Linked DNA regions of Homo sapiens: region 1 is linked to region 2. The links come from fine-mapping of genetic effects on gene expression. A gene starts in region 2. The other region holds a variant in brackets. All regions are shown on one strand. Distances are between the middles of the regions.

Region 1 (5,382 bases), 180 kb before region 2:
TTACAGCCTTCTTCCTTTTCCCAATGCTAAAAGTTTTGTGTATTTTTTCCACATGCATTTCTTTGTTCATATATATTTTAAAAAGTCTAAACAATTAGGATATTGTATCTTTTGCTCTGTAATTTTTTTTCCTCATCAGCCTCTTCTCAGGCCAACATATACATATCTAACATTCTTTTTAGTGGTGAGAGAATATTCTATAATATTACATGTATGTACCATAATTTATTCAACCATTTACTTGCTAATTAACATTTAGATTTCCAGTTTTTTTTTTTTTTTTTTTTTCATTTTTATTTTTTGAGACAGACTTTTGCTCTGTCACCCAGGCTGGAGTGCAGTGGCATGATCTCGGCTCACTGCAACCTCCACCTCCTGGGTTCAAGTGGTTCTCCTGCCTCAGCCTCCTGAGTAGCTGGGACTACAGGCACACAACCCCATACTCCACTAATTTTTGTATTTTTAGTAGAGATGGGTTTCACCATGTTGGCCAGGCTGGCCACAAACTCCTGACCTCAAGTGACCTGTGCTTGCTTCAGCCTCCTAAAGTGCTGAGATTACAGGTGTGAGCCAACACATCTGGCCTCTAGAATATGTTTCAATAAACATCTGTGTCCTTACATTTTTATGCATGGAAGCTTTTATTTTTATAATTTCTCAGAAGGTTGTTCACTGAAAGTTATGTGTATTTGATTTTAATTCACACCCAGATAACTTTGCCAGCAATGTTTCTGCCAATTTCCTTGCATCTTCACCAAAATGGATATTGTCACTATTTAACCTTAAACCAATCTGATAAAAACTAGTATTACAGTAATACTTTTTAAAAAACAATCCATTAACCCTTATAATGAAGATGAACACACTTTATATTTGTTGACTTTTTCAATGTCCTGTTCTGTGAATTGCTTATTCACAGTGTGACCACTTCTCCAATAACTTAAACTTCTCTTTGTATACAGGGACACTGACATGTTTCCTATTACTATACAAATATTTCTTCTAGTCTACTTGTTGTTTTAACTTTGACTGTGGTCCCTGCCATATGACATTTAAATTTTTTATTAAGTAAAATATGTCTGTGTTTCCAATCTTGTTAAAAAGATCACTTCCACCCTAAGGTTGTATAGACTTTTCTTTGAATGTGTCTTTGTATTGTGTTTCCATTGTTGGGACCAATGTGAGAAATTTCTGCAATTCTTCTAAAAAATATTTTTTTTTTCAAAGAAGGGAGGGCAAGGGCAAAGAGCAAGAAAGGAGGATGGAGATGACTGGTCCATGGTTTTAGTTAAGAAAAATCCTAGATATCAGAAAATAAGATTTGTTAATGTTGTGAATCCTTATATGATCACAAAGCCACATTCTTAGGAAACACACAATTAAAAAATGTATTTTGATGTATCCACTCCATTAATGTGGATAATGAAATTTTACATATATGTATATCATTTTATATTTAAACATTTCAACAATTTTTATTCCCACCTTCCTTGAATGCTGCTTACCTATCAACTTAAAAAGACGGTAGAAAAGAACAGGGTATTCGGGAAAGTTATTCCATCCTCCTTACATTAACCAAATACAAATATGGAAATTCTTGATTTTAAAATGTCACATATTTTAAGTCAGCTAAATTGGCAACGATATTAAAACAATAGTATACCCCCTAAAAAAGTTTCTGCATGATTGTTTATTTAAAATATTATGACTCTGGATGTAAATACATATGGGCTTACATAATGTATGATTATCCATATAAATGCTCAATTAAAATATTTAGTTCATCCTTAAACACCTTTTGTTCTAATAAGCATAATAGTAAATATTTTATCTCATTGGAAGTGTTTAAAGCTGTTTGAATCTTGATTTGTGAAGAAATTACTGAAAAATAACTTAAGGTTAACTACATCAAACAATACTATTGTTTGCAATGCTGTCAGATTTCTCCATGGCAAAATAGTCGCATATGGTTATTGCACGATTTATAGGTACAGGTTATTATGTGCATATAAACTCTCTACATAATGACAGTGTTTGCACTGCAACTTGCTCAACACATTTAAAATTGTTGAAATACAATTTACAAAATCTTTAACAACATACTTTTAAGATAAAAGTATCCTGAGGATATTACAAAATTCATTTTACCAGCCCTTCATTTCTTTGCTTTGACTCTTTAATTTCCAAGATAATCGTTGCCCATATTTTATTACATAAAATGCTATTATTATATATTTCCTATTAAACAAAATATATTTAAGTTAAATAGTACATAATTGTCCCATAAACACTTAGTCCCATCTGCCTGTAGTCTCATTGGTTAAAATCAAGTATTTATCAAGTTTTCTATAATTCTGAATCAGAAAAGGTACAGCACAAAACAGACAGAAACAGGGTTAGCACATTTAAGTTAAAAGCATTGTGCATTTTAAATATTTTGGTCATATTTTATAATAAAATATTTTGGCAAAAATAAAATATAAGGTTTAGTTTATTTTCTATTAATGGTAGATCTGGA[G/C]AGTATTTTACATTTCTAAATAGTATCTACTTAATTTGACTGCTTTCACATTTGTTTCTGAAAACACTGCTATTCGCTTTTCAGAATTTTGAGATTAAAAGCACCTAAAAATAAGATAAAATAAAATTTAAGTAAAATATTTGTTTGATGCTCGAAAGTTGACAAATTCACAAACTTACTTTAAGTGTCTTACATGATATATGCCACCACAGAAACTTTATTGCCTGCTAAGACTTATTTGACTAAATCTAATCTTTAAAATAATAATCCTGATAGTCTCCTTGAAACTTATTTGAAAATTAGGATGGGAATTCAAAAATTTTTTAAAAATGAAAAGCACAGTTGCAAAAAAAAAGTTATTCTGGTGGCAATAGTTGTTATGGCACAAAAACACATGAAAAACCAGTTTTCGCTAATATATACAACTAAGTTCAAATAAGATGTGTAAGATACACACACACACACACACACACACGTATACATACATACAACTTGGGTTCCGGAGGGTAAACTACTGAAAACCTTACATATTGAGCCATCTAGCTCATTTATCACTGACGTCTCAATGACAATTTTAATGAAGATGTTCATTATTTTTTTCATTCTTACTCAAATACCTATCATTAATTAAGAGAAGAGTTTGAGATGTATAAGGCTAATAAAGGAAGTGAGAGTGTGGTGAATTAAGTGATGAGTATTATGTACAATTGCCTTTACAAAAAACGTATTTTTACTGTGGAAGAAATTCATGCAGAGATGCCTGTGGAAAAGTATCAATAAGAAAACAAAACACCTTTAACACTATGACATACTGATTATAATATACTATGATATGTATTATTACAGCATTACTTACACATTCTACTTTAGGCAATGTAATCTACTTCTGAATGACCTTGTTAATTTTTAAGGCATCAGTGCATCAAGGGCAAAGCTCCATAAAATAAATATAAAAACAAGAAAGCATTAGCTAATTTGTGGCATAGAGAATGATCACTGTATATTATATCTGTTGGCCACTTCCATATAGGTAATAAATTGTACATCTTATTGTAAAAATGTTATAGCATAAATTTCACATCATTTTTCAACACTTCATTTAAAGGGCTAAACTGATCTGGCAGTATTCTCATTTTCATTGTTCCATCAGCTCCACAGGAGAAAATGTGATTTGCAGGCCCTGTCTCAATTTGCATCACTCCAGTTCCAATATTTCTAAAAATGGACTGCCGAGCATGTTCACTGACAAAAGTATGGAGAAGACCAAAGGTAGAGAGACTCCAAATCTGAAAGATATTAAGAACAAACGGAAAATTAGGGTTGATGATGACCTTAAGAAATCAAATGAGGCCAGGTGCGGTGGCTCATGCCTGTAATCCCAGCACTTTGGGAGGTCAAGGCAGGCAGACCACCTAAGGTAAGGAGTTCAAGACCAGCCTGACCAACAAGGAGAAACCCCATCTCTACTAAAAATACAAAACTAGCCCGGCGAGGTGGCACATGCCTGTAATCCCAGCTACTCAGGAGGCTGGGGCAGGAGAACTGCTTCGACCCGGGAGGTGGAGTTTGTAGTGACCCAAGATCACACCATTGCGCTCCAGCCTGGGCAACAAGAGTGAAACTCCATCTCAAAAAAAAAAAAAAAAAAAAGGAAAAGAAAAGAAACCAAATAAAAATTTTAGGCCTGCATTCCTGTGCAGTAAGGAATTTCCAAAACAAAAATAGAGAAAAATCTGTGTAGGCCTAGGATCATAACACCTTGATTCTGTATAGAGTGTTGTAATCTACCAATTGCTTTAACACAAAATACTTAAAAATCCATCTAGTAAGAGAGTAAGAGAAACAATGTAGGTAACAAGGAGGTTAAGTGTACAATGCTACAGAAACTTACAATACTGTAGGGATTAAAATCAACGTTTCCTATCTCTCAGCAGAGCTTTTGCCGTATAGGTGTACAGTAAGGTAATCTCTTCTTTACATTATTGAATGCTCACCAGGGATCAGAACAGCTAGAAAGAGGGAAGTACTTGACACCTAGAGGCCCTCTGACCAGGCAAAGCTATATTTTAACTATAAGACAAAGTCAATTATTACAATTTCAGGATACTTAATTTACTAAGATTTTGTATTTCCAGCCCTTATCAAAATAAATGTGCCTGTAAAGCAAATTATACGCATCTTTACTTATGGGAAGAACGTAAATGCTTTCAGGACATGTATTTTAGGTTTAGCGAAACCTACTTATTTCCTGGTTTTATTGGAGATCATTTTTCTAAACGTTTCTTTACTCTAAGAAATTCATTAATTCATACTACCCTGCATATGAATTTGTTAAATTAGGGCTTCTGAATACATTGTATATTTTCAACTCTTTTTTTTTTTTAACCTTGATTAAACAATAAACCACAGGATCAAAGTACAAACTAAAGAACCAATCTAGGCCAGGTGCGGTGGCTCACAACTGTAATCCCAGCACTTTGGGAGGCAGAGGCAGGCAGGCGGATCACAAGGTCAGGAGATCGAGACCATCCTGGCCAACATGGCGAAACCCCATCTCTACTAAAACACAAAAAATTAGCAGGGTGTAGTGGCGCACGCCTGTAGTCCCAGCTACTCTGGAAGCTGAAGCAGGGAAATCGCTTGAACCCGGGAGGTGGAGGTTGCAGTGAGCCGAGATCGTGCCACTGTGCTCCAGCCTGGCGACAGAGTAAGACTCCGTCTCAAAAAAAAAAAAAAAAAGAACCGACTTAACTATGGCATATTCTAAACTAGAGAGTCAGTCCAAATAAGAAAGTAGTTTCAAACTGAAGGAAAATAATTCTGTTGGTATATATATATTTGATTTTAAGAAAAAGGCTTTTAAA
Region 2 (5,382 bases):
TGACCAACATGGTGAAACCCCACCTCTACTAAAAAATACAAAATTAGCAGGGCATGGTGGCACATGCCTGTAATCCCAGCTTCTCAGGAGGCTGAGGCAGGAGAATCTCTTGAACACAGGAGGCGGAAGTTGCAGTGAGCTAAGATCGCGCCATTGCACTCCAGCCTGGGCAACGACAGCGAAACTCCGTCTCAAAAAAAAAAAACAACACAAAACAACTCAAGAAGTAAACAATAGATTCTGCCTTTTAACATGAGAGAAGAAAAAAGGGCGATTTCAAGAGAGAAAAATTTAAGGTGTATATAAGTGTCCAGGATAATGAGCGTAAGCAACTTAAAGAGTCAAGGATGAACAGGCTGCAAAGGAAAACCATGACTGTTAAATCCTTAAAATTCCATCAAAACTAAAGAGAGCTGAACTCTCTTTATACTTAAAAATTTATTTTTAGTTTATTTACTGAATGCTTCCAGAGACCTGGAAGAAATCTGCAGTAGGCTTGGTGGGAGATTAAATCCTACTCAATGGAAATGAACTTTAAAATTCAGCAGAACTGAGCAACAAGCTACATGATGGTACAGGATGACCATCTATCTAATCCTCCTCGGCACATTAACTGATCTCTCCTTAAAAACAATACACAGACATTCACCAAGGTTTTATAGAGGAATGCATCCAGGTATATAAATAGGCCATCATACTGCATATGCTTTGAAGTTCACACCACTGCTTACATAGATTGTGAATGCCTTCTTAGAAAAAATTCTTAGGGCTGGGCATGGTGGCTCACGCCTCTAATCCTAGCATTTTGGGAGGCTGAAGTGGGAGGATCACTTGAGCCCAGGAAGTCAAGACCAGCCTGGGCAACATAAGGAGACCCCTCTCTACAAAAAATAGAAAACTTAGCCAGCCGTGGTGATTAGAATCTGTAGTCCTAGCTCCTCAGGAGCCTAAGGTGGAAGGACGGCTTGTGCCGGGGAGGTCGAGGCTGCAGTGAGCTGTGATCCCGCCACTGCACTCCAGCCTAGGTGACAGAGGGAGACCTCATTTCAAAAGTTTTTAAAAAGCAAAAGTTCTTAGAATTTACACTGGAGAAAGCACTCATATAAATTTAGGAAATGACAGAGAATGCAACAATATTATCCTATAATTTCCCACTAGGAAAACCTTCTAAGGATGATGTTTACTTTCCTCTCAAGCAGCAAGAGCAGAGAGCAATGCCCAGGTGTAAGGAAACTATAGTTGCTCACTGGGACCCTCAGAGCTCACTCTTTTCCCAAGTATTCAGGCTGGGCAAACATTTAGAATTGGAATCCCGATAATTAAGATGTGTATGAGTCAATCTAAAGGGGAGGTACAGTCTCTATTTGAAAACAAAATGCTTCTTGGCACAATTCTAAAAGTACAATTCAGGCATTAAATGCCTCCACCATTTTAAATGCTGAGTATTATTTATTCTGACCAACAAAGACCACAGAAAAATTAAAAGCAGAGAAAAAGATTAGAAATTTAACACTCCTAAACCTGGGGCATTGGTTACGTTGTTTACTTTGTGTCACTTATACAAAATTAAGTTTTACTTTTATTTTTTTTAAAGAAAAAAGCCTACAGCACTTAGTATTCCCAGGCAGTGACAAGTTTTACTTTTAATCACAACTAAAGAGGTATCTACACAAATTGTAGCAAAAATCATTAGCATTATAAATTTATGTAGATAAAAGTATCATGTGCAATTACTGACTTATATTTTGAAATTGTTATTAAAAAAAAACCTATAGTTAAGGTAGAAAAATGCCACTATACTGACAAGTAGCCCGAAATTTGGTGCCCTCTTCTTGTCAATATGTGACCAATGAAAAGCAAGTTAAGCAACCTTAACCTGGGATTACCAGGTTATTGTAAAATATCCAAGAAATATTTTTAAAAATGAAAAGGCTTTTTTTTCTTTCCGAAGTTATTTCTCAGGGAATTAGAAAAGAAAATAAATGAAAAACACTGTTCTCAAGGCTAGTTGTTGATGGCAAACAATTGGTAATTGTTTTGAGACACCCACTTTTTAACTACAAAGATACTTGACCTTAACTTAGAATACAAAATGAAACCAATCTCCACTATTCCTAAATTTGACAATTTGAACCTATAGAATGGTATAAAAAAGCCCCCAACTCGTTACTCAACAAAGATTTTTGAACAAACGACTTTGGCAAAGCACCCTGGCCCAAGGCAGACAGACCAAAAACTTTAAAAATCCTACAAAATATTCTAACTTGAGTTCAGGCTCCATACAGTACCTCACTGACCGACATGGTTTTGCTTCCTTAGTTCTCAAGGGCCAGGTCTGCTGGGTTCTGGGTGGTAAGGACCCCCCTGGGGAGACAAGACCTCGCGCCTCTGCCCGTCGTTCTGGGCCAAGCTCGGCCCAGAATGACGGGCAAAGGCCGGGCCACGGGCGACGCGAGGGCCTCCCTCACTCACCGTGAAGCGCTGGTCGCCAATGCTGCCCACGGAGAAGCAGTGGTCGCCAGGGTTCACAGCCCCGGTCAGCACCTGGTGCAGGTTCATGTCGGCGCCCTAGTCCTGCAACGGACACCGCATCCAGCTCATGCCACGGGTCAGCGGCTGCTTCCCTCCCTCCTTCCCTCAGGGGCGGCGGCCGCTCTTCGGTGGCGACGGCAGAAGCAGCGACAGGCGCCTGGAGCCGGAGCCGCTCAGCTGGGGCCCGCGACTCATCCCGAGCCCCGGAGGGCGAGGCCCGGAGGGGGCGGGTCGGCGAGAGGGCGGAGCGCCGCGCTCCTTCGCGCACCTGTCACTCCCCGCGCTAGCCCAGGTGAAGCTCAGGGTCCCCTCACCGGCCACGACCCGGGGCCGACTCACCGGCCAGGAAGGCCGCGCTGTCCACACACTTCCTCTGGACCTCGGGCAGCCGCTCCTGACCCAGCCCGAGTGGCGCAAGCAGTACGCGCTCGCACTCCCCGCCTGACCTGTCCCTTCCCGGCTCCGGTGCCCGCCACCCCCACAGTCCTCCGCCACTCACTACGCGCCTCTGGATCCCTGCGGCCGAAATATCGCGAGACTTCGCTCGGGGCAGCTGCTACTGTGGTAAAGAATTCACTTTTTTACCACAGCGTGCGTATCAGCAAGTGAACATAAAAACGCCTCTTCTAGTCAGAAACTGGCCAATCCCGACCCCCGGTCCACCTAGGGCTCCGCCCACCACCGAGAATAAGCCAATCTCTTTGAGGCTTCTACAGGAGAACGCCGTGCGTTTGAGCTTGAACCTGATAAGCCTGGCAGAAGCCTGATGAACCCAGAATGAGTGAGATGTGGTAAGTTGTGCTTTAGGTTAGGGCGTCATCTAACTGTTGGGCCAGAAAATTTAAAGGGGAGAAGTGCATCCTAAAGGGAGTTGCAGTTTCCTCGGTTCTGGTAGGACTACAAGTCCCAATATGCACCGCTCCCCCGGGCGACCTGAGTGTCTCTTGAGTAAATGTGACCCTTGAAACGTCTACGTTAGCAGCTTAATGGTTTCTCCAGCCTTGCGCGTGTTTCCAAGTCCCTAAACGGGATGGTTTTTGAAAGGCTCGAACACTTGACAAGTAGGAAAGTGGTATTTTCTTAGCCTAAGTTATCTTAACACGTGATTTGAAATAGTGCTGGTAATAACAACACACCAGCCCTGCATTGAGCGTTTGTTTTGGAAAAGAACCTAGGAATTCCAGAATGATCAGAGTCACAGCTACAAACTGAGATTCAACTCTCATTGTATTTTGACACAAGTTTTGTATTATAATTGACAAACATCTGTTTATATGTCTCCCCCTGTATACCGTAAGCCTCTTTGGAATACAGAGGAACAGGACACAAGTCTGTCCTTAATGTCTAGCACCGCACCAGTCCCACCCATTCAGGGTGTTCTGTAAATGTTGCATGAATGTGTATAGAAACTCTCCAAATAGGCCAGGCACGGTGACTCACGCCTATTATTCCAGAACTTTGGGAGGCCGAGGAGGGTGAATCACGAGGTCAGGAGTTCGAGACCAGCCTGGCCAACATAGTGAAACCCCCTTCTCTACTAAAAATACAAAAATTAGCCGGGCGTGGTGGCTCCCACCTGTAATCCCAGCTACTCGGGAGGTTGAGGCAGGAGAATCACTTGAACCCGGGAGGCAGAGGTTGTAGTGAGCCAAGACCCCCGTTGCACTCCAGCCTGGGTGACAGAGTGAGATCCCGTCTCAAAACAAACAACCCTCAAAACTCTCCAATAGGCCAGGCACGATGGCTCACGCCTGTAATCCCAGCACTTTGGTAAGTCGAGGTGGGGGCGGGGGGATCACCTGAGGTTGGGAGTTCGAGACCAGCCTGGCTAACATTGTGAAACCCAGTTTCTACTAAAAATTAAAAAATTAGCCTGGCATGGTGGCACGCGCCTGTAATCCCAGCTACTGGGAAGCTGAGGCGAGAGAATCGCTTGAACCTGGGAGACGGAGGTTGCAGTGAGCCAAGATCGTGTCATTGCACTCCAGCTTGGGCAACAAGAGAGAAAGTCAAAAAAAAAAAAAAAAAAGAGAGAAAAGAAAATAAAGAAACTCCCCCTTTTGTTGTAGTATGAAGACTTCAAACTATAATAATACTAGGGTGGGACGAGTACTAGTAAATTTATTTCCTTTTATTTTTACTACATTTTTTGCAATGTACATTTACTTTGTCTGACAATAAAAAGCTACTTACGAGATACTTTTTAGTTCATAAGTGGGATGATTGTGTGTTCACACTTGTGTGAGACGTCCCTCCCTCAAACCTTGTTGCGCCATCATCTGCACATTACCCATCTGATGTGGGGAAAAAAAAAAAACCCGAAACTTATTTAAAAAATGAATTTCATTATGTATTCCAGGCTTTTCATAAGATAAGGGACAAAACTTAATTTGTCTTTTTTTAAAATATACTTATTTTTTGAGGTCTAACATACCTACAGTTTGTCTTTTATTATTTCAAATTATACTTCAAGTGCTTTTTAATTTTATATTTTAGACCCAGAACCAGGATTGTTGTACTTGTGTGGCTCCCACATAAATTCTGTGGCTGGTTCATAATTTAACATGTTTACTCATTCTATTTTGCCCATTTGTTAGTTTTGAAGAGCATTCCACGTATTAGAATAAAACTGAGCAACAAGATGCGGGGCGCGGTGGCTCACGCCTGTAATCCCAGCACTTTGGGAGGCCAAGGCGGGCAGATCATGAGGTCAGGAGATCAAGACCGTCCTGGCTAACACAGTGAAACCCCGTCTCTACAGAAAATACAGAAAAAAAAATTAGCCAGGCGTGGTGGCGGGCACCTATAGTCCCAGCTATTTAGGAGGCTGAGGCAGGAGAATGGCGTGAA

Alleles and levels. Alleles are on the strand shown, and positions count from the first base shown. SD is a standard deviation of normalised expression in the study named.
For the expression in aorta of the gene that starts at base 3,042 in region 2, C is the high allele of the variant in region 1 and G is the other (moderate effect, 0.47 SD a copy in GTEx).

The links. PIP is the estimated chance that this variant, and not a neighbour inherited with it, causes the effect.
Region 1: its variant is the best candidate, but not a certain one, in a credible set for the expression of DMXL1 in aorta (GTEx, PIP 0.83).

What each region holds. Positions count from the first base shown.
Region 1 is chr5:119,245,417-119,250,798 of GRCh38, reverse strand. DMXL1 (Dmx like 1) reads right to left here. Exons shown (of 44, transcript NM_001290321.3): 44 at 1,672-3,804. The coding sequence ends at 3,580. Among named protein-coding and RNA genes, the nearest start is that of MIR5706, 93 kb to the right of the region's middle. The variant G/C (reference allele first, on the strand shown) is at 2,519.
Region 2 is chr5:119,068,747-119,074,128 of GRCh38, reverse strand. DMXL1 (Dmx like 1) reads right to left here and starts at 3,042. Exons shown (of 44, transcript NM_001290321.3): 1 at 2,473-3,042. The coding sequence starts at 2,559. DMXL1-DT (DMXL1 divergent transcript) reads left to right here and starts at 3,239. Exons shown (of 3, transcript NR_134250.1): 1 at 3,239-3,323. LOC124901209 (small nucleolar RNA U13) reads left to right here and starts at 4,729; the gene lies at 4,729-4,832. RefSeq lists silencers at 2,606-2,885, 3,196-3,275.